4 linked regions of the Homo sapiens genome follow. The protein of the gene in region 4 purifies or fractionates together with the protein of the main gene of each other region. This does not show direct contact. Each region holds a gene or a part of one and is shown on either strand. Other genes may lie near its edges.

Region 1 (8,195 bases), on a different chromosome or scaffold from region 4:
AGTGCGACACCTCGCCATGGGGCCAGGAGGAACTTGTACTTGGTCTGGGGCAGGAACGCCACAGAGGGCTTCCCCAGGTCCAGGCCGGGCCAGCCTTGACCTCTAAAGTCACAGCAGGTTAGGAAGCCGTGAAGGAGGGAGGGACTTCGGGCAGAAGAGGGTGGGACTGGGGTTAGGCAGGACTGCTGAGTGGAGGGAGGCAGTGGGGACGGGAGGGGTGAAGGGTAGGCTGGGCCCGCATCAAGACGCTTGCCCAGGGAAAGGCCACACCGCTCACCAGCGTCTTTGCCAGCTCCCGGGCCTGCTCCTGGTTGGGGAAGACGGCGGCCCCTCCGAACTTAACGTCCACCACCAGAGCGGACAGCCCCTCCACGAGTTTCTTACTGAGAATGGAGGCTTTGGGGGAGGCAGAGGAGGTTGGAGACAATGGAGAACCTGGAGCTTCTTGGGAGAGTTCGGGGATGCCGACTTTGGGGTCAGGGGCCCTGAGCATTGAGGGTCAAGTCCCTTATTATGGGGGTGGCAGCACCTGGTGGGTTGAGTATCAGGCCACCCCACATGGTGGTGGTCAGGCATCTTGTGATGGGGGTAGGGGGGCACACGGTCAGGTGACGGGTAACTCCTAACGAGAGGCCCTTGACTTGAGTTTGGAGGTCAGGAGCCTGTGAACATGCAGAAGCAGGCCATGGAGTCAGGTCACCTGTGATGAGTGGCAGGCTGTCCACGGTGGCTGTCACATCTCTGGCTGCATATAGGATTCCGTCCGCAGGAACCAGCTGCTCACTCTGACCCACGATACAGCAGCCCGCCTGGTCCAGCAGCACTTGCATCTGGTCAGACATCCCCTGTTCTCAGTGACTTATGGTAAATGACTTAGCAGCTTTTTTTTTTTTTTTTTTTTTTTCTGTGAAGAGTCTTCCTCTGTTGCCCAGGCTGGAGTGCAGTTGGCACAATTTCGGCTCATTGTGACCTCTGCCTCCTGGGCTTAAGTGATCCTCCCACCTCAGCTTCCCAGTAGCTGGGACTACAGGTGCGCACCACCACACGCGGCTTTTTTTTTTCTTCTTTTTTTTGTAGAGATCAAGTTTCACTATATTACCCAGGCTGATCTCCAACTGGGCTCCTCTGCCTCCCAGAGTGCTGGGACAGGGTCTCACTCTGTTGCCCAGGCTGGAGTGCAGTGGCATCGTCCCGGCTCACTGCAGCCTAGACCTCCCAGGCTCAAGTGATCCTCCTGCCTCAGCCTCCTGAGTAGCTGGAACCACATGCGTGCACCACCACACGCAGCGAACTATTTTGTAGAGATGGGGTTTTGCCGTGTTATCCAGGCTGGTTTTGAACTCCTGGGTTCAAGGGATCTGCCCTCTTCGGCCTCCCCAAGTGCTAGGACTACAGGTGTGAGCCACCGTGCCCCGCCAGCCATCTGTGATTTTGACCAACTTCCCATTTTATGATCCTAATCAAAGTTCCACTGATGATTTCGGCCCAGGCCCAGTGACTCATGAGTAACCTTGACCAGTGTTCTCATTAGTGACCCTAATGATCCACCAGTGATCTTTTAGTGATTCTGGCCAGGGTCTCCATCATCAACCTGGATTAATGACTGATCCGTGGCGCCCCGTACCTGCTCTGGGCTCTGGATGACATTGAATCCAGGAATAGACTCCAGCTTATCCAAGGTGCCTCCTGTGTGCCCCAGACCACGTCCGCTGATCATTGGCACCTGGTGGTCAGGGATGCTGAGTACCCTGCACAGTACCCCTCCCCCACCTCTGTGCATCCCTTCACCTTCCCTGGCTAGGAGTGCAGCTGGATTTGGAAAGTATTTAAGCAGCTATAGGGGTGCCCAGCTGGTGAGGGAATGGAAAGGAAGTTTTCTTGGTTGAGAAGTGTCAGTAGGGGAGGAGGTTGGTACCTGTCCTTGGGGAAACAAGGCTTGGGGCAGAGGGAGGAAAGTCCTCAGCTCCTCCCTTGGGGGAGCTGTCTGGGGACCCAAGGGGAAAGGGGTCTGAATTCCATCAGTGGATCTTTTTCCTGCTCCAAGGGGCCTGGTCTGGAGCCAGAGGGGCCCCAAGCGCTGTGCTGGGGAACGGGGTGGGGAGAACTGTGCTGGGGAGCAGGGTGGGGAGAAGCCTTGGTAGGGTCTTGGAGGCTTTGGGCCAGGCTTGAGGTTGGGAGCTGCCTGTGGATGGACTGGTTGCTGCATGTGCGGTATAGGCTCCCGTCTGGAAAGGAGGTGGTTTCTAACCTTGCAGCCACATGCCGCCAGGGCAGGTGCGAGGACCAGGCTGACCTTGTCACCCACACCCCCTGTGGAATGCTTGTCCACAAGCTGCTGGCGCCAGGCCTCTGGCCACTCCAGCTGCTGTCCCGACTGAGCCAGGGCCTGGGTCAGCACCGAGGTCTCCTCCAGATCCATGCCCCGAAGTCGGATGGCCATCAGCATGGCCCCTGGTATGTGGGGGTACGCGTGAGGGTGGCAGCCCACAGCGGTGGGGCACCCTGGGGCCGGTGCTGGTAGTGGGGCACCGTCGCACCCCCAGGGACCCAAAGTCTCTCGGGCTGACCTCCCAGTCGGGGTCAGGAACGCCCAACCCTCCCCACGCACCGATCTGTGCGCCCTGCGCGCTCCCATTCACCACAGCGGCCACGAAGCCCCTGATGTCCGCTTCGCTCAGGCGGCCTCCGTCTCGCTTCATGCGGATCAGCTCCGGGAGCTGCTTGGGCTCTGGCGAAGGGTCGGGAAGTCCCTGGCTCCCTTCCCCGGAGAAGTCACCAGGCGCGGGTGGGGCCCCGGTTCCCGGGGTCATCAAGGCTGCCATCGCTCCGGGCCTGCGGGGATGCCTGACACGTCCGGGGTCTGCGGCCTCCCGGCGTCGGTGTCTGAGCCACGTGCTCCTGTCCCGACCCCTTTCCCGTGTCTCTCCGGTGTCCGCCCCTCGGTCCCGTGTCTGTGTCGCCCTCGTCCGTGTCTGCCTCCCGCTTCCCCGCCTCGCGACTTGAGCCCCGCCCGTACCTGCTTAGGGCGCTGCCCTCGCCCGCTTGCTCCGGATCCCAGCCCAGGTACCCGGCCTCGCCCGCGGGTCGGGACCGTAGGGTTCAGGGTTCGCGCACAGCGGTCCACTGCCGGCGGCGGGGCGGCGGCGCCCCAGGACGGCAGGCGGGTGGGGCCGCCTGGAGGGCGGAGCTCGGCAGTCGCCGCCCCCGGGAAGCCTTGCACGCCGCGCCCCGGCCAATCCCCCGGTGCCCCCGGACACGCGGAACTTCCGGGCCGTCGGGGCCCGGGGCCGTCGGCGGGGGTGATCCCTGGCCGGTCCCGCCCGGCGTGGGTCTCGGGCGTCTGTGGCTCCCGAGAGTCCCCCTCCCGCCCTCGGTGGGGTCTCGACGTTCGGACGCGGCGCAGCGCTGGGGTCCCGGCCTCGCCCGACGCTCGGGCCCCGCCCCGCTGGGTTCGGAGTTGGGACACGGCCCCAGCCGTGGCTCCACCCCAGGCCTTGCGCCAGGACGCGCAGAGAGAGAGAGAGAGAGGCGGACACGATGCGGACTCGCAGACTTTAAGCAAACACGTGTGGGGCCGCTCCCGCCTGGCGGGTCAGTTGTCCGCGTCGGTCACCAGCGGGGCCAGGTAGTCCGAGTGCCGGATCCCGAAACTCCAGCCGCGGGGCTTCCGGTGCTGCGGGCCCGGAGACACCGCTGACCTCGCGGGGCCGGCATCCTCTCCGCGCCGGGACCCCTGGACCCCCGGGGACTCTGATCCCATCACTCCGACCTCAGGCCCTCCCCACTCTCCTGACTCTGACCCTTGACCCTGGGCTCCAGGCCACCTGATCCACGTTGTAGGCCGCGGGCCCTGGCTTCCGAGTGTTGTCTTGGGGGAGCGAAGTCCGCGCCAGAATCGTGAACTGGGGGGCCCGGGACTTGTAGACCCCTGGACTCACGACCTGATAGGCGCAGGGGCCCGGGGTCTGCGAGAGGGCAGAGGGTGCTGGCTGCCGCCTCCACTGCCGCGGACCAGGGACCCCCTGCGTCCGCCCCGGCCCCTCCCCCACCTTGCTGAGGTCCTCGAAGAAACTGCCAGCCGCTCTGCGGCCGTAGATGGAGCAAGTTGGGGCGGAGACTTTGCCGATGACGCGCGGACCCAAGAGCGAGGGCACCGTATAGGCCGCGGGACCTGGGGAGGAGGCAGGGCTCGGGGGTAGTGGGTCTCCGCGGACAGGCGCAGGGTGGTCCCAGCTCCCGGAGGGCGGTCCCCGGTCTCGAGTGGGAAGGCCCACAGTTCTGGGATGGGCCGTTCTGACCTCACCTGGGCTCTGCTGTTCCGCCTGGACACCCCAGTTTCGGGGAGCAATGGTGTGCCGAGGCGCACTGGGGTACGTCGCGTTCCCCGCTCGCTCCGGGAAGTACCTGCCTGCGGGGCGGATCAAGGGTGTGGGGGGCTAGAACTGCGTGGGAGCCTGGTGGGTACCCGAGATGGGGTCCTGGGACTAGTGGGGAGTCTGAGCCACGATTTATCAAAGCCCCGTGGGGTTCGGGGTTTGGGATTTGAGATCCGGATATGGGGGTACCGAATATGCGGTGTTAGGGTATCCGAGGGGGACTCGGGGTTCAGGTCGGGGGTTCCCAGGTGGGCCTCCCTGGAGGCAGTTCGGCGTTGGGGTGGCCAGGGGCCCGGGGGTCCTGACCAGGTCCCGGAGTGAGGAAGGGCGCTGAGCGGCGTGGGCGGCCGTAGATGGAGTAGGCGGGGGCGCCGTCGGTGCCGCGCACGGTCATGCGAGCGGGCACCAGGTGGCCTGGCCCGGGGCCGCACGTCGTCTGCTGCGTGGGGAAGCGCGCGCCGAAGGTGAAGGCGGGGGCGCGCGGCCGCGACGGGTCATGCAGGGCGTAGCCTGGGAGCATCCGAGTTAGCGTCTGGCCGGGCCCAGCCCCAAGCCCCATCTGCAACACGGACCCTCCCCCGGCACAGACCCCCTCTCCCCTCTAGCAGGCACGGTTCAGCCCCGAGCGCAGGCCTCCCTGGTCTCTTCCCCTTCCCTCCCCCAGGCGCCGTCCCACCCCTCAATCCCGGGGCCTGCCCCTTCTACCGGTGTTGGGCGGCAGCTTGTATTTGGGCCCGGGGCCTCCGTAGTGCGCCGCGATGGGGCCGCGGGGCCGGTGTGGCCGCCAAAGGCCCACCCAGGCGTCCGAGCCCATAGCGCGGGTGGGGGGCGCTTACGGCTCGCAGCACCTGCGGACAGAAGGCGGTGGCCGCGGCCCCTGCACCGCAAATTCTTGGGGAGCGCACTTTCCCACTACCCTGGGATCAGCGCGGGGCGGGGCGGGGCCTGGACCGTATCCCTGGCGCCAGCAAAACAAACGCGAGCTTCCTTCCCGGCTGTGTGGAGCTTGGGGCCGGGAGCGGATCCAGGGCCATCACCCGGACTCCAGGCGCATTAGGCAGGGACGTGAACTCGCGGGGGCCAAGTCTAGACCCAGACTTGGTGAAGGGAATCACCTGGGGGTGGGGTGGGGGCAGGAGATTTTCGTGCTGTTGGGAAAGGGTGCCCCGGGAAGGGCCTGCGTGGGGGACCCGGTGCCCCGAGGTGCACTGACCTGTTGTGGTAGCTCCTAGCGTGGGAAAACAAAGCGACGTGGCTGGACATCCCCGCTCCGCCCCGCCCACCTCCCAGACCCCATTGTGGCCCTTTCCCGCTTCCTGGCAACCGCACTGACTGCCTGCCCCCCCAACCTGGGTCCGCCTCCCCCTTCCCCACCACCCAGTGCCGCCGCTGGGCCTCTGTGTGGATTCTGTGGCACGGGTGGGATAGTAGCCTGGGCCACCCAGAACGCTGGCCTCACCCTTACCCAAGTTTCAGTATACCCATTCTGGAATAGGACAAATCTGCAGACAAAAGCAAGGATGGGAATAAAGGAACTGAATAATGCAAAGCACACACTCCATTTAATTATGTGTAGAGAGAGGACTTATCTATTTAAGTCCATGAAATATTCGCAAAAAAAATCATGTATTGGGCCACAAAATAATCACACAAATTGAAAAAAAGATGTGACACATGATTTGATTACAATCAAATACAATTCTAGGCAAACAAAATGTAAAAAAAAGAAGAAGAAAACTCAGCCTGGGCAATACAGTGAGACCCATCTCGACAAAAAACTTTAAAAATTAGCTGGGTGTGATGATGTACATCTGTATTCCCAGCTATGGGGTCGGTGGCTGAGTCGGCAGGATCTGTTGAGTCTGGGAGTTGGATCCTGCAGTGAGCAGTGATCCCACCACTAGACTCCGGCCTGGGTGACAGAGTGAGACCTTGTCTTAAAAAAAGAAAAAAAAAGGGAGAGAGAGAACAGGAAGCAGGAGCAAACAAATATTTTGAAATTGACAAATCTTTAAAAAAAAACCCTGGATCAAAACTTGTCAGAAATAATCTGGTTACAAACTGTAGCAGGAAGAGCCGCAGACAAAACTCCTCAGACACCAGGTTAAAGAAGGAAGGGATTTATTCGGCCGGGGGCATCGGCAAGACTCCTGTCTCAAGAGCCGAGCTCCCTGAGTGAGCAATTCCTGTCCCTTTTAAGGGCTCACAACTCTAAGGGGGTCTGCGTGAGAGGTCATGATCGATTGAGCAAGCAGGGGGTACGTGACTGGGGTCTGCGTGCACCGGGTAATCAGAACGGAACAGAACAGGACAGGGATTTTCACAGTGCTTTTCCATGCAATGTCTGGAATCTACAGATAACATAACCGGTTAGGTCAGGGGTCCCTCTTTAACTACCAGGCCCAGGGCGCGGCACTGGGCTGTCTGCCTGTGGATTTTATTTCTGTCTTTTAGGTTTTACTTTTTCTTTCTTTGGAGGCAGAAATTGGGCATAAGACATATATATGAGGGGTGGTCTCCTTCCTTAAAACTACATATCAAACACTACAAAGGTAGATTCCCTTCCTACTGAACTCCTACAGGAGGCAGCTAAAGCTGTGTTCTTGTGGGCGGAGGATTACCCAGGTGCCGAGGCAAGAGACTGAAGGCACAAACTGTTTCAGTATAATAAAGAAAATAGTTACAGTAAGAATAGTTATCATACAAATTAGATATAGAGATGACCATGGACATTATCAATCATTAGTGTAGACATTAGTCATTAACTTTTAATATTACTCTTTGTTGCATCATTAATATAACCTAGGAATCACCGGCGGGTATAGGGTCAGGTGCTGAAGGGACATTGTGAGAAGTGACCTAGAAGGCAAGAGGTGAGCCGTCTGTCACGCCCATATAAGGGCCGTTTGAGGGCTCCTTGGTCAAGCGGTAACGCCAGTGTCTGGGAAGGCACCCGTTACTTAGCAGACTGCGAAAGGCAGTCTCCTTTCTTTGAAGGAGTCAGGGAACACTCTGCTCCACCAGCTTCTTGTGGGAGGCTGGATATTTTCCAGGCCTGCCCGCAGTCATCCGGAGGCCTAACCCCCTCCCTGTGGTGCTTCACTGGTCACGCTCCTTGTCCACTTTCATGCTCCTCCCATACTCCTGGTTCCTCTTTGAAGTTCACAGTAGATAGCGGTAGAAGAAATAGTTAAAGTCTTAAAGTATTTGATCTTTCTTAGAAATGCATAGAAGAAAACGCTGACGTTTGCTGCCTTCCCTCTCTGCTTCAGCTACCTAAAAGGGAAGGGGCCCCTGTCCTGTGATCACGTGACATGCTTCACCTTGTCAATCACTCAGAAGATTCACCCTCCTTACCCTGTCCCCTTGTCTTGTATGCAATAAATATCAGCCGTTTGGGGCCACTACCGGTCTCCTCCTCTTGATGGTAGTGGTCCCCCGGGCCCAGCTGTTTTCTCTTTATCTCTTTGTCTTGTGTCTTTATTTATTATAATCTCTCATCTCCGCACACGGGGAGAACACCCACTAAGCCCCGTACGGCTGGACCCTACATGTTCTGAGGAAAATTTATAGTCATTTTAAGATGACTTCATTATGGCTGGGTGCGGTGGCTCACGCCTGTAATCCCAGCACTTTGGGAGGCCGAGGCGGGTGGATCACGAGGTCAGGAGATCGAGACTATCCTGGCTAACATGGTGGAACCCCGTCTCTACTAAAAATACAAAAAAAAATTAGCCAGTCATAGTGGCGGGCGCCTGTAGTCTCAGCTACTCGGGAGGCTGAGGCAGGAGAATGGCGTGAACCCAGGAGGCGGAGCTT
Region 2 (7,205 bases), on a different chromosome or scaffold from region 4:
CAAGCTCATCCCAAAGTCTCTGATCCTTACAGGCTGCTAGACTGAAGGACACAGTTCTTGACCTCAGCTTTTGGCTAGGGGCCTCACTCAGTATCTCATCACATGAATCTCTCTGCTGGGCTGCCTCATCACACAACAGCTGTCTTCCCCAGAGCAAGCAGTTTGAGAAAAGGGGTGCACCCAAGATGGAAGCTGCAGTCTTTTTTGTAACCTAATCCCAGAAGAGTCATTACTTTCACCCTGTTCTCTTTAACAGAAGCGAGTCACTCAATCCAGCTCACACTCAATGGATGTAAATATCAGGATGCAGGGATCTCTGAGGGCCCTTAGAGGTTACCTACCACACTGGACTAGCCTCTCTGGCATCACCTGGGAGCTTGTTAGAAATGCAGAATATGGGCCCCACCCCAGGTCTATGGCAGCAGAGTTTGCACTGTTGCAAGATCCCCATTAAAGTTTCAGAAATGCTGATCCAAATGGGAATGGACCTCACTGGTACCTCTGGCAATAGGGCTAATGGCTTCCCTTCTTCTTTCTCTCAGGTCACATTAACTTTACTATTAGTACAAAGATTCTGGACAGCAATGAACCATGTGGGGGCCAGAAGGGGTTTGTTCCCCAAAAGGGCCGAAGTGACACGCTCATCAAGCCAGTTCTCGTCAAAGTGAGTTTTCTTCAGAGGTAGAGACAGCAACCAACCGAGGGATGCTCAGCATCTCGTCTTGCTGTGAGTTAGTCTCTCACAGCAACCATACTCCAGTCCAACCAGGCAGCTTCAACTTTCTCCTTCCCTGGCCCCTTGAACATTTGCCTAATCCACACCCACGGCCTATGAAAGCACCTAAAACCCGGCACCTCATAGGCACTCAACAAATGTTAGTTTACCTAATTAAAATGTCTGTCTTCATCAATAGCTGCCTTTTTCGTCCCATCATGAAGCCCATTGTCAATCTTGCCTCTTAGAAGTTGCCTAAATGTGTCTTTGGCTCTAGCACTTGCCCAGAAAGAACTTTACAGAAAGGGCCCATCCTTGGGTTGACGCAGAGTTCTTCTGAGCTTCAGTGAGAAGCTCTTGTCTGCAGTTCTGAGGGAAGCCCTGGGGGCACAGCGAGGGGCCTCCCTTCCCTTTCCTTTAGTGCCATCCCTCCTGATGTTCATCTTTGTTGTTTTTATCTGTGTCTCTCTTCATCGCAGCCTGAGGGAGTCCTGGTGGAGAAGACACACAGCTCATTGCTGTGCCCAAAAGGTGGGTGGACTCAGAGCAGGATTGGTGGTGAGAATTCCCTTAGAGGGCAGGAGATTTTCTTTTCATTTTTTTTTTTTTTTTGAGACGGAGTCTCGCTCCGTCGTCCAGGCTGGATTGCAGTGGCACGATTTCAGCTCATTGCAACCTCTGCCTCCCGGGTTCAAGTGATTCTACTGCCTTAGTCTCCTGAGTAGCTGGGACTACAGGTACATGCCACCATGCCTGGCTAATTTTTGTATTTTTAGTAGAGATGGGGTTTCACCATATTGGCCAGGCTGGTCTCGAACTCCTGACCTTGTGATCCTCCTGCCTTGGCCTCCCAAAGTGCTGGGATTACAGGCGTGAGCCACTGCACCCGGCAGCAGGAGATTTTCATAGGCAAAAGGAGGAATGCATAGTACCAGAAGGAATAGGAGAGTCTGAAGTGCCATTCCTCATGGGGCTGATTAACTGGGAGGCAGGAGGAAGAAGAGAAAGTGTGCAGCACGATGATGACTCTCTGTGGAATTTATTTTCAGCAAGATCACTATGAATAGTACCCAGTGCTTTCTGCATCCCAGAGAAAGCACCGAGTACAGAAATCCCTGGATTATAGAAAGTTCTTCTAAAATTTTGTCTTGAGAACCCCTGCCATTCCCCATCTTCTATTGTGTCACCTTTTTTTCTGCATCTCACAGGAAAGGTGGCATCTGAATCTGTCTCCCTGGAGCTCCCAGTGGACATTGTTCCTGACTCGACCAAGGCTTATGTTACGGTTCTGGGTAAGCAGTTAGAGATTCTTGACTCAGAAAGGAAAAGGCGAATGGAGGCTGCAAAGGTGTGGAGTGGGGCGGGACATACGGACCTATCCGGAGAGTGTAACTAATAACAAGTGATGAAGGAAAAAGAGCGTATTTTATATAGGAGGGAAATACAGTGTAGGCAACAGTACAGATGGGATTAGACTTGTACTCTAGTTAAAAATGGAAGAGAGTCAGGGTAGGAAGAAGGTAAGGTCGCTGATGCTTGATTTTAGGTTTAGACAGTCTATAAATTGGGTGAAGGGAAAACAGAATATTTGCAGCAACCATTTTCAAAACTGAGGAATTTGGGTATAGTTTAGGGAAGATACAACCATATTTACAATAGGCAGCACACTTACTGTTTGGGGCAAGGGAGGAAGTGGGTTGAAAAGCATGAACGTAGAAATCATATCTAACCTGTCATTTAATAGCCATGTGACCCTGAACAAGTTAGTGAACAGTTCTGGGCCTTCTTTCCTCTTCTGTAAAACAGTGATAATAACCTACCTCTCAGACTGGTGTAAAGATTAAATGCAATATAAAGTCCCCAGCACAATATCTAGCATGTAGTAGGAGCCCTATGAATGTTAGGCTCTTTCTTTACTCCCTCACCCTCTATTGAGATCCTTTGCAGTCACAGTGTCTCTGTTTTGTCTATTTTATTCGTAAGTCTGACATAGCACTTATCTTATTGTATTAGAGTTCACTGTCTATATCTGTCTTCCACACTGTGTTGGGGGCTCCTGAAGAGGAAGGGCCACATCTTTTTCTTTTGTGTTCCTAGTACAGTTCCTGCAACATAGTTGACATTCAGGACACATTTATAGATTGAATTGAGCTTGTTGGCTACAATGCAGATGTTAATGAGTCACTTATGTCAGGTTCACTGGCTTGGGAAGTATATGAAGGGGTCAGTGACAACTTGGAAAAGAGTGTCAGAACTGTGTTTTAGAGAAACTTGGTGATTTGGAGGGTGAGGAACGTACATGCAGTGGTAGAGGAGCTTAAGAGATTGATCCTAAGTGTTATAAGTTTTGTCACATCACTCATCAGCTCAGTGACATGTCTTCTTAAAAGCCCTGAACTCTCTTAGATAGCTTATGTGCCTCTCCGTGTCCCCTAGCACCTCGTACATATCCAGTATGACATTGTAGTACTGTATTAAAATTGTTTATAATGAATAAAAATTGTAATGTGTTGTAATGGTTTGCTCCTCTGTGAGTTTTTTTGAGGGTAGAGACCGAGTTTGATTTACTGTGGTCTTCCCAGGACACACAGTAGGTACTTTTTTTTTTTTTTTTTTTGTATTTTTAGTAGAGACAGGGTTTGTCCATGTTGGTCAGGCTGGTCTCGAACTCCTGACCTCAGGTGATCCACCCTCCTCGGCCTCCCATACTGCTGGAATTACAGGCGTGAGCCACCACGCCCGGCCCATAGTAGGTACTTATTAAATGATAGCTAATACGTGTTTGTTCAGTGAATGATGATAACTCTTAGAGGGTCCCTTCTTCTCTGTACCCCTACCTTCTCTCTCTCCTTTTGGATCCCAGGAGACATTATGGGCACAGCCCTGCAGAACCTGGATGGTCTGGTGCAGATGCCCAGTGGCTGTGGCGAGCAGAACATGGTCTTGTTTGCTCCCATCATCTATGTCTTGCAGTACCTGGAGAAGGCAGGGCTGCTGACGGAGGAGATCAGGTCTCGGGCAGTGGGTTTCCTGGAAATAGGTAAGTTGGTTCAGTCTTTCTTTCTTGAACACTCTCCTCCACTAGGCCCTATGACAGATTGATGATACAGGGAATTCCAGCCCCTCAAGTGTCCCATATCCTTGAACGGCATGGGGGTGTTTTCTGAAGTTGTCGCTGTGATCTAAAACCACATTTGGCTTCCCAGGGTACCAGAAGGAGCTGATGTACAAACACAGCAATGGCTCATACAGTGCCTTTGGGGAGCGAGATGGAAATGGAAACACATGGTAATATCACCCAATTCCCAATGAGTTCTGTACTCCAGAGCATAATTCCTGAGCCCTCTGGAACTATTCCACTACCTCTCCCCTTAACCCCTTTCCTTCTTGCACTCAGTCTTCTACCTCTTTAATACTGTTTATTTCACCCTCATGGATGGTCAAGTCCCTCGATCTTCCTGAGCTTGTGCCTCCCCTGTTCTTGTCCTCATTGGTGCCCATTAATGCCTCTCTTTTCTAGGCCTGCTATGGCATATGTTCCCTCAGCTCCCCTTCTGGAAGTATACACCCAAATAAATGAAGAAATGATTGCACCCTCACCTGGAAATTCCTCTTCATGCCATATTTTCCTCTTTACCCATGTAGGCTGACAGCGTTTGTCACAAAATGCTTTGGCCAAGCTCAGAAATTCATCTTCATTGATCCCAAGAACATCCAGGATGCTCTCAAGTGGATGGCAGGAAACCAGCTCCCCAGTGGCTGCTATGCCAACGTGGGAAATCTCCTTCACACAGCTATGAAGGTGCGGATCTGTCCAGGAGCCTGCAGCCAACCACTGTCTCGAAGGACCCCACACCTCTGACCGAGTAGAAGCAAAAGAGCACTGGCCTGGGAATCAGTTTTCTCCTGATCTCCACTGTGGCTCTGGGTGACCGTGATCAAAATGCTTAGCTGGTCTGGGCCTCAGTTTTCATGTCTGTAGAATGAGAATACAGATGAAGCCTGGGTGCAGTGGCTCATGCCTGTAATCCCAGCACTTTGGGAGGCCGAGGCGGGCAGATCGTTTGGGCCCAGGAGTTTGAGACCACCCTGGGCAACATGGTGAAACCCCATCTCTACAAAAAAAATATGAAAAATTAATCAGGCTTGTTAGTGCATGCCTGTAGTCCCAGCTACTTGGGTGGTTGAGGTTGGAGGATCACTTGAACCCAGGAGGTCAAGCCTGCAGTGAGCCGTGATTGCACCACTGCACCCCAACCTGGGTGACCGAGTGAGACCCTGCCTCAAAAAGAAAAAGAGAATGTGGACTGGAACATGGTTCTCAAAGCATAGTTCCCAGATCAGGAGCATTGGCATCACATGGGAACTTGTTGGAAACGCAGATTCTGACTCCCAGCCCACACCTACTGAATGAGAAACTCTGGGAGGGTGGGCCAGAAATTTGTGTTTTGACAAGCCCTCCTGATTATTCTGATACACACTGAAATTTGATACTACTGGACTAAAAGATCTCTGGGCCTCTTACTGTGTCACCAAATCCATCTGGGAAAGCCATTTCCTGTGGTGAGGACTAGTAGGCAGCCCAACGTCTTTTGTAAGAAGTTTACTCTATTGGGCACTATTCTAGGCACGTGGTTTATTTGATATTATTTCATGTTTACAACAAATCAATGAGCTAGGTATTGGTATGCCATTATTAATCCCATTTTACAGATGAAGAAACTAAGCCATGGAGACTAAGTAAATTGCCCAAGGTGCATGCTAATAAGTGGCAGGACTGAGATTTGAACCAGGCAGTTGCACTCCAGAGGCACTGCTTTCTTCTGTTCACTACCTTGTCTGTACCTGTCCCAAGCAGAGGGCGAGGCGTAGATCCTGCAGGATAACTTGTTCAATTCAGGACACACTCAGTGCAAGAAAGACTTGTATAAACTTTTCTAGAGAGATCACTTACATTGCTATTCCAGGGCAAGGATTAAAAATCTTGAGTGTTAAAAAAAAAATCTATTTATAGGATTCATTAGTCTTCCTCTGCAGGATCTTATTAGTCTCCCCTAAGTTTTTGTCTTCTTCTTCTCTTATACACTGTATGAAATATGCGTGGGGGCCAGGCGCAGTGGCTCATGCTTGTAATCCCAGCATTCTGGGAGGCTGAGGCGAGTGGATCATGAGGTCAGGAATTAGAGACCAGTCTGAAACCCTGTCTCTACTAAGATAAAGGACTTGACTAGAGCAAGATCTCAGAGGTATTCTTCCTTCTTTCCCTTTTTTTTCTTTTCTTTTTTTCTTGAGACAAGAGTCTTACTCTGTTGTACAGGCTGGAGTGTAGTTGCGCAATCCCAGCTCACTGCAACCTCTACCTCCTGGGTTCAAGTGATCTCAGCCTCCTGAGCAGCTGGGACTACAGGCATGTGCCACCATGCCTGGCTACTTTTTGTATTTTTAGTAGAGATGGGGTTTCACCATGTTTGGCCAGGCTGGTCTTGAACTCCTGGCCTCAAGTGATCCACCCGCCTTGACCTCCCAAAGTGCTGGGATTACAAGCGTGACCTATGCGTGCCCAGCCTCTTCCTACTTTCTTTTGAGAGCAGGCCAGTCCATTGAGAAATCCATCCTCTGTGTAGCCAAGGTTAGTGGTGTGGCACATGAGCTCCAGAGTTAAATGTCCTGGGTTCAAATTCCAGTCCTGCTGCAGATGAGCCATGTAACCGTGAGCAAGCTATTTAATCTTTTTATTTATTTACTTATTCATTTTTTTGAGACAGGGTCTCACTCTGTCACCCAGGCTGAAGTGCAGTGGCACGATCATGGCTCACTGCAGCCTTGACCTCCCCGGGCTCAGATGATCCTCCTACTTTAGCTTCCTGAATAGCTGGGACCACGGATCCACGTGCCACTACACCTGGCTAATTTTTGCAGGTTTTGTAGAGTTGGGGTTTTACCGTGTTGCCCAGGCTGGCCTCAAACTCCTGAGCTCAAGCGATCCTCCCCACCGACTTGGCCTCAAGCTGGGATAATAGGCATAAACCACTGTGCGTGACCACAAGCTATTTAATCTTGTTAAGTGTTTGTTTTCTTATTTATAGAATGAGGATAATAATTTGAGTAGATATTTTTAAAAATTTGCTTAGCTCTTTCTGGGAAAGGCGATAAGCAGGGAAGGTCTCACCTAATCTCTGCTGGAGAAGGGCTGGGTATTGTGCTGCTTGAGGGGAGCTGCATGTGAGGAGGCTCAGATGCGGTGATGCGGCAGATTCTCTCCTTATTCCTCCCTTCTTTAAAGCTCTTACCCTTCCTAACTCCTTCTCTTGGGTTTCTTAAATACCCACTCAGCTGAAGTCCACATGCTGCCTCCTGCAGGCTGTTTAAGGCTGTGCAGTTATGAAGTCCAAACTGTTCCCTCTTTGTGTGTCCTGGAGGCTTGGAGCTGCAGAAAGCCTGTGGAAAAAAGAGCTTTCTTTTCTTTTTTCTTTTTAAAAATTATTCATCT
Region 3 (7,205 bases), on a different chromosome or scaffold from region 4:
CTGGGTTCAGGCAATTCTTGTGCCTCAGCCTCCCAAGTAGCTGGGACTACACCACGCCCGGCTAATTTTTTTTTTTTTGTATTTTTAGTAGAGATGGGGTTTCACCATGTTGGTCAGGCTGGTCTCAAACTCCTGACCTCAAATGATTCACCACCCACCTCGGTCTCCCAAAGTGCTGGGATTACAGGCATGAGCCAGCTTGGCCTTTTTAAATATTAAGTGCATGTACTTGAAAGTAGGTACACATGAAGATAAAAGAATAGGCTCCAGGAAAATTTAAGTCAAGTCTTCATAATCTATAAAATTGCCTATTTAATAAATATATGTTGTAAACATTTTTAATGTTCTGTAATTACTGTTATTAATGTCATGTTACCTCTTTGATCTAGGTACTTTGGTCATAAAGCTGAAGTATATAAAAACAATCTATATTTAGTACAGACCAAAATTCATGTCCTTTGCTTTTAAAAGGTAGAACCAAGAAAAAAAAAGCAATAGCAGAATACGGGCACGTATTCTAAAGAATTATAAATGGATTTTGCAGCACTTAATTTCTGTTTTTTTTTTAAGTACCTTTCTTTGATTCTTTGTCTCCTCATTGGTACCATCCCAGAACACTGATGTCTTCTGCCAGATCAGACCTGTCTTGATCATCTTCCCCACCTAAATCAGGATGTGTCCTCCCTTCTACCTTTCCAGAAATCCCACCTTAGTTTTCATACTTTTCTTGATTAACTGGTCATAAGATGATTTCCCTCAACTCCACCCTGTCTCAACATGCAACTCCCCATGAGTCAATCTTCATAATTGTTTCTAATGTGTTTGTTCCATGGTGTGTGTTGAGTAACTGTTGTTGCCATTTGCATGACTACATAGTGGTTACTGTTTATTTCTGCAGTTTGGTGTTTTTTTTAAGTCTTGAAATAGGATTTATTAACCGGAAGTGTTTCTTTTTATTTCTTAATTAAATTCAGTGAGAAGCTTATCATGAAATGTTATTCTTAGGCTGGCATTCATAAAACACTGGAGTGTTTCATTTTCTCCTGATCTCAATCTGCCTTCCAAAGCTGCTAATGACAGATGAGAGCAAGATTATAATTTTAGTTAGGGTGTGGTGGCTCATACCTGTAATCCCAGCACTTTGGGAGGCCAAGGCTGGAGGATCCCTTGAACTCTAAAGCTCGACACCAGCCTGGGCAACACAGGGAGACCCTGTCTCAAAAAAAAAAAAAATTTAAAAAGATTATAATTGTATGTAGTCAAAGAAATGTGTTTCTTTTCAAAGGCAATGTGTCAGAACTTTGTCCCATCTCTGGGCCTTTTCTTTATTATCTTAAACTCTAAACTATAGAATTAGCCTCCTCAACTATAGTTTTTGCAGGCCAGTTCACTCTCCTTGCTCTAGAACTCTGGATAGCCTATATATTTCCATCATCCTGTCTCTTTCATAAAGAATCTTGCCTTTAAATGAAAGACTACTCCTTAAACATTAGTACTTGTAATATTCAATCACCTACACATATTAAAGAACGCCTGCCCTCTTGTGTCCAGGGAGACTGCTACAGCAAGTATTGAATTAGCAAACTTGTCATTCCGGAAATACAGCATTCTACCCTACAGGGATTATCTACCAGGGAGCTTTCTCAAGGCTGCCAAGTATGGTTGTACAGTTTGAAAAATGATCCCAGCCCAAGACACGAATGCAATCCATTTTACACTCTGTCAAGCCATATATCCTTGCCCAGGTCATGTCTTTCTAGAGAGGTGACCCATTAAAATTTCATTCAAGAGTACTGTTAAACCTTGTACCACTTGGAATGTGCAACTTTCTCTAATTTACACAAAGCTCTCTATAGCTTAATGGCAGCCGTGTAGAGGCTCATTAAGAGTTAGTTGGGGCCGGGCACGGTGGCTCACGCCTGTAATCCCAGCACTTTGGGAGGCCGAGGCGGGCAGATCATGAGGTCAGGAGATCGAGACCATCCTGGCTAACATGGCGAAACCCCGTCTCTACTAAAAATGCAAAAAATTAGCAGGGCGTGGTGGCGGGCGCCTGTAGTCCCAGCTACTTGGGAGGCTGAGGCAGGAGAATGGCGTGAACCCAGGAGGTGGAATTTGCAGTGTGCCAAGATCACGCCACTGCACTCCAGCCTGGGCGACAGAGCGAGACTCCGTCTCAAAAAAAAAAAAAAAAACTAAGAGTTAGTTGGACAGTCCTCTCATCGTGTAACTTTCCTACTCAAGAAATTTCAAGAAATTAAAATCAGATTGTTAGAGCTGAATAGCTGAATGACATTAGTCCCAGGTTATCAGAAGAAGGAAATAAGGAAGAGAGAGGCAAAATAAGAACTGTCAAATTCATTAGAGGCAAGCAGGAAACTAAAATGCAGGTCTTCTGACTCCCAGTCCATGCTCTTACCTCCGGTTTCAGGTGACCCGTTTCTTTGACCCCACCTTACTTATTCCATACTAGGCTAGAATAGATGTGTAATAGCATGCATAGGGCTGGTGGGGTGATTTGAGGCAGTATGTGGACAAACATTTTTTGCACATTAGTAGAAATGTATTTGTTTTAATGTATTTCTTTGGGAAAAAACAAAAACATTAAGTCCATAGTTTCTGAGACATTATGATATATGACAAGGGTAAGTTAAGTTTGAAAAGTGAGTTAATTTGAAGAAAGATATTAAGTAGTGCATATGTTAATAGCTTGATTTAGCCATTGACAATGTATACATATATCAGAATATCATTTTGTATGCCAAAATATATACAATGTTTCCTTGTCAGATATCAAAATATCCTTTCTTTTGTATAACATAAATATATATAATTTTTACTTGTCAGTTAAAAAATAACAAAAATATTAACTAAATGATAGTTCAGATAGTACTCAGATATGGCAAAAATGATAAAAGTGGTAAAAAATCATGGTAGAAATTTGAGACCATCTCAGTCCATTCTGACTACTATGACAAAACACCTCAGACTAGGTAATTTATAAGCTATAGAAATGTTATTGCTCACAGTTCTGGAGGCTGGGAAGCCCAAGATGAAGGGACTGGAAGACTCAGTGTCTAATGAGGGTCTGTTTCTCGTAGACAGTGCCTTCTCTCTGTGACCTCACATAGTGGAAGGGGCTAGCTAGCTCCCTCGGGACTGTTTTGTAAGGGCCTTAAAACCCTTCAGCAGGATGCACCGAAGGAACTTACCACTCTGGCCCCTTCTAACCCTACCACTGAGGTCCTTTTCTGTTTAACACTGACAGTTGTTCCATTACTGTTACTGATGACAGTATATCCTCTCTTTTTATTACAGCTGTGCCTGATATTCTATCCTTTCCATACTCATCCCAGTATAAACCACAAAATAGGTCTTCAGAAAAGACTGTGGCTTCACTGATTTTCCTGTGTTGCCTCCAACATTTATAAAAAAGCATTGACCAAGAGTGTCAATGCCCTAGTTTCAAAACCATCTTTACTTTTCTAAATGTAGATGTTTTTCCATTTATAAAAATTATGTAGACTTAGCCGGGTGTGGTGGCCCACACCTGTAATCCCAGCACTTTAGAGGCTAAGGTGGGTGAATCACTTGAGGTCAGGAGTTTGAGACCAGCCTGGCCAACACGGTGAAACCCGGTCTCTACTAAAAATACAAAAATTAGCCAGGTGTGGTGGTGCACACCTGTAACCCCAGCTACTCAGGAGGCTGAGGCACAAGAATTGCTTGAACCCAGGAGGCAAGGTTGCAGTGAGCTGAGATCATGCCACCACACTGCAGCCTGGGTGACAGAGTCAGACTGTGTGTCAAAAAAAAAAAAAAAGTAGACTTATACAAAATTTGAAAAATACAGGAAAGTAGAAAAGAAGAAAAAAAGGCATTTATATTCTTACTAATGAACCCTGCTAATCCCCTCCCTAATTAAAAATTCTCCTGCAAAATCCTAGCAAGTCGGGATCTACATCTGTTTATCATTCTGGAAGCTTGCAATGTTCTGGATTTAACATATTTTTGTTATTTCAAATCACAAAATAAATTTTCAATGGAGAATCCAGGGGTGGAGTTCTTTTGGCACCTCTATAAGGGGCAGTTGGGTGACTACCACAGAGGTGAGCCAAAGCTGGGGGAGGCTACTGCAGATCAAGGATAGTAATAACTGATACACTTTGCAAAATGCATTGTGTATGTAAAGCTCTTTGTCAATAATGATGGTTCACTGTTCCATGTATACATATGCTGATGTGTATATTTGTCTTTCCTGTAGGGTTTTTGGAGTCTCTGGATGATTTTTACATTCTTAGCAGTGGATTGATATTGCTGCAGACCACAAACAGTGTGTTTAATAAAACCCTGCTAAAGCAGGTAATACCCGAGACTCTCCTGTCCTGGCAAAGAGTCCGTGTGGCCAATATGATGGCAGATAGTGGCAAGAGGTGGGCAGACATCTTTTCAAAATACAACTCTGGTAAGTGACCCTGCAGAATAACTGTTAGGCACAGACATATATTTTGATTTAGGCTTGTTAACCAGTAAAGTCATACCCATGCCCCGTCTTCATGTTTCCTGATATTTCAGGCACCTATAACAATCAATACATGGTTCTGGACCTGAAGAAAGTAAAGCTGAACCACAGTCTTGACAAAGGCACTCTGTACATTGTGGAGCAAATTCCTACATATGTAGAATATTCTGAACAAACTGATGTTCTACGGAAAGGTACTTTCTTCATGTCGTAAGTCTTAAAACCTGATGAGTATGTGTGTGTTCATATATGGTAGGGGAATGCACATTGTGTGAATGTGTGGTGGGGGAGGGTATGGTGGGGAAGACAGGATGGGGATGCTATATTACACCAGAATGACCAGGTTTAGCACAACATGTAAACCTACATCTCAAACTCTTATAGGACAATGTGCAGATTGGGACGCAAATCAGGCATTCATGACTCTATGATTTCTCATAGTTCTAATGTTACCTTTTCTCCTGTGTTCCTGGTTAAAGCTTTAAGTTCAATTCAGCAAATATTTTTGGAGTGCCACTGTGGCCCAGGGACTAGAAAAGCAAGGATACAGAATCCCTGACCTGGAAGGACTCAGGAGTCTAGTAGGGAAGCAAAGCACTCAAAGCAGCTGCAGGAACTCAGGATGGGAAGAGCTGTCATCAGGTCTCATGTCCCTAGGCCAGTGGTGAACCTAAACAGAACGTGGCTGTTAGTGGGTGGAGTCAGAGAAGGCACTTCTGGTGGGCAAGAAGGAGTCCAGACATTTGAAGCCAGGAGGCTCACTGCCTTGATTCAAATCTCAGTTCCTTAAAATCTCAGGCAAATTAGTGAATCTCTCCAAGCCTCATTTTCCTCATCTATAAAACTGAATCGTGATATAGGTCCACAACCACGTATTTGTAATTTTAAAATTCCAAAATTGTAAAACCACAAATTATTATTTTGTTTCTCTTGTTTTGCTTTGATTTGGTAGCCTAGCTCACTTGGTAGCAAGAAAATGACCTGATCTGAACTCACTTGGCAGCAAAAACTACCAGAAAGAAACTTTTAGTGGTTTTTAATTTTAATTTTTATTTTTCTTCAGATGGAGTGTCGCTCTGTCACCCAGGCTGGAGTACGGTGGTGCGATCTCGGCTCCCTGCAACCTCTGCCTTTCGGGTTCAAGCGATTCTCCTGTCTCAGCCTCCTGAGTAGCTGGGACTACAGGCACGTGCCACCACACCTGGCTAATTTTTTGTGTGTTTTTAGTAGAGACGGGGTTTCACCAGTTGGCCAGGTTGAACTCCTGACCTCAGGTGATCTGTCTGCGTCGGCCTTCCAAATTGTGGTGCCCAGCCTGTTTTTTTAAATTGTCTTTATTTCCTCTTAGAGACACCATGTATACATTAGGCTACAGAAATATCAACATCTTTGATTATGAGGTGTTTCCCAAAGAGACTGTAATGTCATATAATCCATGCACTCCATGGTTGTTCTAAAGTCTGAAAAACCCTAAATTCTGAGACTCATCTGGCTCCCAAGAATTTCTGGATGTGGGAGTGTGGAACTCTACAATTTCACAGGATGGTCATGAAAATTAATTAAGATAAATAGATAGATTTATTGAGAGAAAATGTTAGCTTTAAAAATCCTACTGGACAGTTCAGACTTTATGTTTTAGAAATTGGGAGTTCCTGACAAGGGAGAATAGACTGGGTGGGAAGAAAAGAGACTAGTTAGGAGACTATTGCAATAGATCAACTGGCAGATGAATAGGGACAGAACGGAGATAAAGTGTGGACCCTAGGGATCAGGACCTGGTCCTCAGTTTTCCAGGTCCCCAAATTGACTTTGTAATGATGCCTAGAGTGAGCCTTGTCAGTGGAGAATGGGTCACACCAACTAAATGCACTAAGACTTATGCATAAAACAAAAGGTGGGAGTTTCATTGCCAAGCAGTTCATATGCTACCAAGCAGTGGACCTACCTTCTTCTTTGCTTGTTAGGAAAATCCATCCAAGAAGTCAAATCATTAGGTGGTTACTGTTTAGCATAGAGCAATTCAAAACAGAGAACCCAGCTCCTAAGAGCCTGAAAATAATAGCATGCCTCAAGAGAGAGAGATGCTTGCTAAAGTAGTCTTTTCTTCTTTGGACAGTTGCTGATAACAGAATGGTAGACTTGGTTCTCTGCAGTCCCATTCCTAGACCCCTTGAAACTCCCTAAGACTAAAAAGAGTTGATGATGATCTGTCTGTATTTTTTTTTCTTTGCCAGAGGAGAGAAGAACAGAGAGTTAAATTCAGAGTACCTACTGCATTCTAGACACTCTTCTGGGCCTTTTACTTATGTTCTCTTGTTTGATGTTTGTAACATACTACCCCATAAGTGTTATTGTTGCCATTTTACTGTGAGTAAAGAAAAGCTCAGAAAGAAACATGTTTTGCCCAAACAAATACATGATATCATATAGCCATTAAAAAGGCGGGGGCGTCGGGGTCGGGGGTGGGCACATCTCCTAACGTATTTAAGCAACTGTGGTATGGTGATAGAAGCCCTGGATGTTTTAGTTAGAAGGCCTGTATTCTGTCAAGTTTTGTGAGCCAAGGAAGACAATTGACCTCTCTGAAACTCTGTTTCTTCTGTTTAAAAAAGGGATGGTAATACTTATACATCATCAGGTTTTTGTGAGATTAAACAAGCTGCTCTATTTTCTTTATTTATTT
Region 4 (7,205 bases):
GAAGCAGCGTCTGTCCCGCTGGAAGGAGAATACTCCCTGGACCTCATCAGGCCACGGATTGTGTGAATCAGCAGAAAATAGGACTTTCCTAAGCAAAACAGGAAGGAAAGAAAGGATGGAGTGTGAAACAGATGAACAAAAACAGGGCTCTGATGAGAACATGTCAGAATGGTGAGATCTCCCTTACTAAGTCAAAGATTTTCCTGGTTAATTTTTCCCAAAGTGCACATCCATGGTCTTAGTGGGTTCTACCTTCTTTCAAACCAGCCACTCTAGTATTGACTTTGAAGCCTTCCTTGAATCAATCAGTAGTTTAGCTTTTTAAGGTACCATTCATGAGTCTATTTCCCTCTGTCAGGAAGGCTATATGTAATAGAAACACAGTTGTTTCTAAAAACTGTTTAAAACGCGTACCTCAAATGCAAAACTAATAATTTTATTTTAAAAAACAATTTGCTGCTTATTATGCCATACAGTTTATACATAAATATTGTTGTTTAGAACTCAGGTCTCAGCAGAGGCTGGTGTGTGTGTGTGAGAGAGAATATGCTAGCGCCAGGTATACGGAGTTTATAAATGTTCCATTAAGTTGCCTGTCCTCATTAAGAATCATGGCTTTAGATGCTTTTTGGCTATAATTCTGTTTTCTGCTACTTGTGGTTTGATTATATTGAATTTATTTTTTTATGGCTGACATTCAAATTGTCTGAACACATGGTGGGCTTTGAAAATAACAGTACCGAGTCCCATTAGTCTTACATCAGATGTGATCAAGCCAGAAAAATTTGTCTCTAATGGGTACATGTTTAAAAATGTAAGTGTAGTTTTGGTGACTTTTTATTTTTTACATCTCAGATAGTCCTAGGAACATTGATACCCCCCAGCTTGATACTTTAATGTTATTAATATTAATCTGTGGTTATCTTTTTCTTAATAGTGAGGATGCCATTGGTGTTTTGGATGGGACAATTCTTTATGGTGCATTGCAGAATATTTAGCATCTCTGCATTATTCACACCCCCTTTTCATTGTATCAACCCAAAGGCCTCCAGGGGTGATCCCTAGGTGGATTGAGTACTCCCAGTTGAGAACCAGTGTATTCTATTATTGTTAATATTAGTTGGCATTTATTAAGCACTCAACTATGGGCCAGGCACTGTACTATGGACTTAGCATATACTCTTATTTAATGTTCACAATTCCACTATATGGTGGATACCACTATTTGTATTTACAGAAGGGAAGTTGAGGTTATAAGAGCTTAGATAATTTGCCTAAGATCACCCAGTGCCAAAACTGGGAATCAAGCCTGATTCCAAAGCTCATTCTTAACCACCATGTTGTGCTGCCCTTTGAGTTGTTCTGTCTCAATTTAACTTTCCCAACTGTAGAACATATGACCTTTCTGAAGTTTAGCTTAAAAACAAAGACATTAATCTTAGGAACACTGAGGTGAGGCTGTGTCAGTAACAGGAAAAACTGTTTAGGTCTGTATACCTGTACCTTTCTTGAGTGGTTTTTAATCCAGCTTTTAAACTTTTTCTTATTAACTTTATATTTGCCAGTCTGCAGACTATATTGAGATAGGCTCATAATTTGACTTTCCTAATTTTCCTCTAATGCCTCATTCCTTCTAAGGTCTATTTGCAGAATTTATATGTATATATTTGGATTATAAAGGTATTTTTCCCTCATCAGACTATTTTTAATCAAACAAGAAATGCTTAGTCAACTTGTAGCCTTTCACACTATTGAAACCCTCTATTGAGACATTCAAGTTTGTTTTAATATTGAGCATATATACCAAATAGAAGTCTTCTTAGTATTGAGAATGGTGATTTTAAAAGTAGCCTTTTGGGATAGTAGCTTTGTGTATGTTTCTTCCCCTTAATTTCTTGTTAAACTACGACATAATTGTATGTGAGAGAGCGACTGTTAACTCTGTCTGCTCTAACAGCCCAAGTATGGCTCCAGATGCAGAGCCTGTTTTCTAGCATGAGATGCTTCACTCTTTTCTGTTCCTTCTTACTCCAGACACATCTATTGCACATTCTAGTCAGGATGTAATAATGTAAATTCTCGTTATCTGAGAGTCTGGATAACTTAAGTGGATGGGAATTCTTATGAAATTCTTACTCTTTTCAAATTGAGGAGAACTCATTCACCCATTTGGGCTATTATCCTGGCCCCTCACTTCAGAGTTCTTTCAATATGTAGATGCTAAAGGGTTGTAGCTGTGAAGGAATAATGGGCGGAGTGGTGGCACACACGGCATTGAGGAAAGTTCTTTAAAATCTTCTAGTTATTTAGGAGTTCTAAATTCCCCTTGACTTGTCTCGATTCATTTGTAGTTACAAACAGAAGTGCTTTGTATTTTTTCCCCCTGAATCCATTCTGTGGGGAAAGGGGGTGATTCTTACTCTTTGACTGAATGTTGTGTTCAGCCTCTCTTCAAGAGGAGAGTGGAACTAAAATCTCCCTTAATTGTTAGGCACACCTTTAAAAAGGGCTGGCATTAGAGTGTAAGGAGATAATAGTATATGATTTGGATATTATACTGTCTTGATGAGTTGATTCTGTCAATAATTTTCTACTTTATTTTTTCCCTGCATTTTTAAAAGAAATACTTTCAAGAATCTTCTTGGTTACCCTTTCATAAATCTACTTGGATGTGCCACTGTTTATTCACATACAGATCAAAATGTAGAATTTTACTTTTTAGCAGTGGTATTGAGGGTTGTCAGAGTAATGATCCACATTGTAAGATTATTAAGATGAAGTTGATTGTTAAGCTTAGCTTAGCCTAGTCAATGGTAGCGTTTTTTTTTTCTAAAGCATGTATTAGATGTTTTAGATTTGAAAATGTGTGTCTCAATCAGCTTATTTCTAATTTCCTTAAACTCACTCTTTGCGACCTAAACATGGAGTATAGACTTCATCAATATTTGTTTGCTTTTCTGTTTCTGGTCTTCCTTTAATATTACACCAGCCAATCCCTCACAAGTTTTGAGGAACTAAAAATGGTTATAGTATAGTAGTTTTTTTCTGCTTGCATAGAGATCAAACTATTATTTTAATATTTTTCTGTGTATGTGTGTTTGTGAGTATTCTAAAGCAGAACAACTACTGTAAAATTATTTTCTACTGATCTTTATTTAAATTGTCTGTATAGCAACTATTAATAGCTATTAGCTATTAGGTGACTGTAGCCTAATTTTGCTCTATTCTTTACTAACACATCATTTGTTTGTTCCCCTTGAATATAGTTTAGCTTCTTTTTTTTTTCATAAGTGAATTGGTTGGGTGATGGCCAGAGGTCACATTCAGGAGCCTTCCTAAGGTGATGTATTAGAGGCTGATCTCACAGGAAAGAAAATATTCTCCTCTCTTGGAAGGCAAGTGACAGAGATAGAGTGCTAAACCTACCCACTCCTTCTCCAGCCCAGGCTGACCTTCTGCGGCCCTTTGGTGCCTCTTGTTTTCTTATTTTTATAGAAAATCAATATCCCTTCTGATACAAACAATAGCTCAGAAGCAAGAATAAGTGGGAGAAAGCTGAGATCTCTGTCCATCACCTCTCACTTTAACTCCCCCAAACTCTTTAATTATGAGTGTGCTTTGCTCCAGGTGTTTGTGACAGTGAAATTGCTAAATGAGGACCATTTTAACCAAAGATTGGGTGATCAATAACACTCTATAGCAGTAGCTTGTTGGATCAATAGCATTCATTATTTCATGGTTAAGGTAAGTAGCCTCCTTTGCAAGTGGAGGTCATTAATCAGGGTTTCCTGGAGCTGTGTAAAAGAATATGTATGGTAGGTGGGGGTGTTCTGTTTTCTATTCTGTAAGTAGGGATGCTGACCAAGAATATATTTACCATTGTTGCAGTTGGTAGTATTGCATGTGAGATTCTCGAATAGCTAGCATAGTGTGCTTATGTGGGTATATTCACAGTTCTGCTAGTATCCTTAGGGACAACTAAAACACACAGCTTGGGAGGTCGATATGATACTATTGTACTTGAAGGTCTATCTCTTGAAAGAAACATCCATCTCGTAAAAGAGTCTACCTCTTAAAAGAAATATTGGGATTGTTCTGTGTGGCTCCACAGGACAGAACTCAGGGATAGAGAGTACAGAGTGTTAAATGTTGCTGCGGTTAAAAAATAAGATTCTAAAAATTAGGACTCTGTAAAAATGAAGTGAATTGTTTCACCATGTAATGCGTAATAACTTCTAGATCAGGTGGGGGGATTCAAACATGGGCTTGATGACCGCTTACTTAGTTGCTGTGGAGTTGAGAAGGTTGAACTGAAGGCTTCTGAGATCCCTTGTAACACTGAGATGCTGCGATTCTTTTCAGTCACAGTCTACTTCCCACCATTGTAATGTCTTAACTGGTAAGTAGCCTCAACTGCCCACTTGAATTCTTGTGGTTCCCACTGGCAGTCATCTTCAAAGATTCATTCTTTCTCTCAACTTTTAGAATGATATTCCCTTTTCTCTTATTTCGCAGAATTTGTTCAAAGGCCTCTTGGTATTTGCCAGCAAGGGTGCATAGATTACCCTTGGTCCCCTTCTCTACTCCCGTGGACATAGGTAACTGCCATTCTCAGATCTACAGCTGGCCAAGAGAATATGCAGAGCCCCTAGCCCAGTGCTCCCAGTGCTACTGGGAGGCTTTTATCTCATACAGCTATGCTGGACTGAGATAGGATCATCTAACCCTCACTGCTTGATTCTGACCCCATTCCAGGAGTGTGCCGTAAATGAAGGTGTAGAAAACACTGCAGTCTCCAGAATGTACTGTCTCCAGAATGCACTTCTCTGCCCATGTCAACTGGAATCTTTGTTCTTGAAGACTATACTTTCTAGGACTCAATACCCTATAACTGCTTCCTACCCTCAAACACAAATACACACAGAAAACACTAAGCTTCCCTATCCAAGTGTATTCTGGGAGTTAGAGCCACCAAATAGAAACTGAAAGATACTCAGGCCGGGCGTGGTGGCTCACGCCTGTAATCCCGGCACTTTGGGAGGCCGAGGCAGGTGGATCACAAGGTTAGGAGATCGAGACCATCCTGGCTAACATGGTGAAACCCCGACTCTACTAAAAATACAAAAAAATTAGCCTTGGCGTGGTGGTGGACGCCTGTAGTCCCAGCTACTCAGGAGGCTGAGGCGGGAGAATGGTGTGAACCCGGGAGGCGGAGCTTGCAGTGAGCCGAGATCACACCACTGCACTTGAGTGCACTCGAGCCTGGGCGACAGAGCGAGACTCTGTCTCAAAAAAAAAGAAAAAAGAAACTGAATGATGCTCAATGGGAAGAGAAGGATAGAACCACACCCTGCCTCAACCTGTAGCTGCCTGATTTTCTGACTGAAACTGGCCTTGCATTTCTGAACTGCAAGGTGACTGTAGAGAAAGGATGCAGGGGCTTGCTATCTACCTTCAGGGCAGGCTCAGCACTTCTAACGTGGGCCTCCATTTCATTGTCAAGTGTGGTTCTATCAGCCTTGTAGTTTGAGGAAATCTTGGCAATAGGCCATCTGTATTCTCTATTGCTACAGAAAAAAATCGCCCTAAAACTTAGTAGCTCTAAACAAAGAGACCAAGTCTGTGAGTATGTAAATATTCCCAGGGAAGAAACCAAAGTGCTGGAGAAGAAGATACAACTGAAGAGAAAAAAGTGTTCTTGAGTTGAAAAATTAAGTCTTAAGATTAAAAGCGAAAATTAATGAGAAGAGACTTCTACTGAGACGGAGATTTTAAAAAAATATTTTATTTTAGTTTTTCTTTTTTTCACATATGCTCAAGACTAAGGAAAGAAAAATCTTAAAAGGGGTTGAAGACTGGGTGCAGTGGCTCAGACATTCTTAGATATGCAGGCCCCAGAATCCATGTTCTTTAAAAATTTACTGTGAGAAGACGTTCCATCTACCTGAAGATGAATCACTGTTAGCTCTAAGAAAAGGGAAGTCTTGAAAGGATGGGTGGACTTCTCTGAGGCACAGCCCCCAGCTCAATAGCAGAGTCCTGAGGAAAATTCTGTCTCTGCAAAGTATACCTGATTGTACTAGTCACAGTATCGAACCTGTCAACCTGCGGAGGTTGCTGCCTTTCATGGCACTGTCTGAATGAAACTGAAAAAGAAATTCTTTTATTATATATTCTCATTACTTATAGGAATAATTTCAGAACTGATGTGAGATATTTCTCTGAATAACCTCTCCCTCAGTCTTGTTTACTACTAGATTCAGAAGTCTGATTACAAAGGGTTACCAGTGTGCCACCTCTACCCTGGAAAAAAACTGGAAAACGATAGAACAAAAATACCTTTGGGCAGTAGATCTAAGAGTGACTTTTTTCCACGTTTTTCTAAATTCTGAAACAACTTTTATTTTTGTTAAGTGCATTATTATTTACTAAGAAAAGTTTTTTAGAATGACGATGTAAGCCATAAACTTTAAGATATCTATTAATTAGATGCAAAAAACACCTCTTATTAAGCTACTTGGTTAATAAGCTCTTAAATGGGGAGAAACAAACCCAGATGGTAATTTATTAATACCAACTTTTGATTGTAGGTGATAAAGTAATTCTGTACCTCCTTATTATAATTGGAACAGGTATAAGTTACTCTTTCAGTTCTCACTTTACAGTCTTCTGTGGTTAGGAGTATGAAAGAATTAGCAAGCTCTCAGATCAGAGGGTGTGCTGTGCTTTTTTCCCACCCCCTGCTCCCCCTGGCAATTTTGGGAATTCAGAGGGGTTTATTTTGTTGAAACTAGAAGCTACTGTTTAGGAAGAAGGGAATTAATTTCAACAAAGAGTTTATAAAGATTCTGTATTATCTGTTGCTGCAGAAAAAATTGCCCTAAAACTTACTAGCTCTAGGACGGGTGCGGTGGCTCATGCCTGTAATCCTAGCACTTTGGGAGGCCTAGGCGGGTGGATCACCTAAGATCAGGAGTTTGAGACCAGCCTGACCAATGTGGTGAAACCTTGTTTCTACTAAAAATATGAAAATTAGCCAGGCGTGGTAGCACAGGCCTGTAATCCTAGCTACTTGGGAGGCTGAGACAGGAGAATTGCCTGAACCTGGGAGGCAGAGGTTGCAGTGAGCCGAGATCGCGTCACTGCACTCCAGCCTGGGTGACAGAGCGAGACTCCGTCTCAAAAAAAATAAACAAAAAAAAACT

The links.
Region 1: the proteins of GPATCH2L (region 4) and TYMP purify together in Homo sapiens (affinity purification with mass spectrometry; 2 studies listed by BioGRID and IntAct, with this or other methods). This does not show direct contact.
Region 2: the proteins of GPATCH2L (region 4) and A2ML1 purify together in Homo sapiens (affinity purification with mass spectrometry; 2 studies listed by BioGRID and IntAct, with this or other methods). This does not show direct contact.
Region 3: the proteins of GPATCH2L (region 4) and PLBD1 purify together in Homo sapiens (affinity purification with mass spectrometry; 2 studies listed by BioGRID and IntAct, with this or other methods). This does not show direct contact.

What each region holds. Positions count from the first base shown.
Region 1 is NC_000022.11:50,526,888-50,535,082, forward strand, and holds the start of TYMP (thymidine phosphorylase isoform 1 precursor), read right to left. Parts: upstream 3,126-8,195; 5' UTR 3,017-3,125; exon of another isoform or gene 2,833-3,016; 5' UTR 2,823-2,832; coding exon 2,609-2,822; intron 2,452-2,608; coding exon 2,249-2,451; intron 1,724-2,248; coding exon 1,625-1,723; intron 831-1,624; coding exon 701-830; intron 397-700; coding exon 278-396; intron 1-277. Other genes in the region: CIMAP1B (ciliary microtubule associated protein 1B), read right to left, coding at 3,771-4,171, 4,304-4,408, 4,683-4,886, 5,082-5,190. UniProt on the Homo sapiens protein: May have a role in maintaining the integrity of the blood vessels. Has growth promoting activity on endothelial cells, angiogenic activity in vivo and chemotactic activity on endothelial cells in vitro. Catalyzes the reversible phosphorolysis of thymidine.
Region 2 is NC_000012.12:8,853,586-8,860,790, forward strand, and holds part of A2ML1 (alpha-2-macroglobulin-like protein 1 isoform 1 precursor), read left to right. Parts: intron 1-542; coding exon 543-664; intron 665-1,194; coding exon 1,195-1,246; intron 1,247-1,923; coding exon 1,924-2,007; intron 2,008-3,578; coding exon 3,579-3,755; intron 3,756-3,921; coding exon 3,922-4,003; intron 4,004-4,360; coding exon 4,361-4,517; intron 4,518-7,205. UniProt on the Homo sapiens protein: Is able to inhibit all four classes of proteinases by a unique 'trapping' mechanism. This protein has a peptide stretch, called the 'bait region' which contains specific cleavage sites for different proteinases.
Region 3 is NC_000012.12:14,508,771-14,515,975, reverse strand, and holds part of PLBD1 (phospholipase B-like 1 precursor), read left to right. Parts: intron 1-4,264; coding exon 4,265-4,465; intron 4,466-4,575; coding exon 4,576-4,716; intron 4,717-7,205. UniProt on the Homo sapiens protein: In view of the small size of the putative binding pocket, it has been proposed that it may act as an amidase or a peptidase.
Region 4 is NC_000014.9:76,154,855-76,162,059, forward strand, and holds part of GPATCH2L (G patch domain-containing protein 2-like), read left to right. Parts: coding exon 1-171; intron 172-7,205.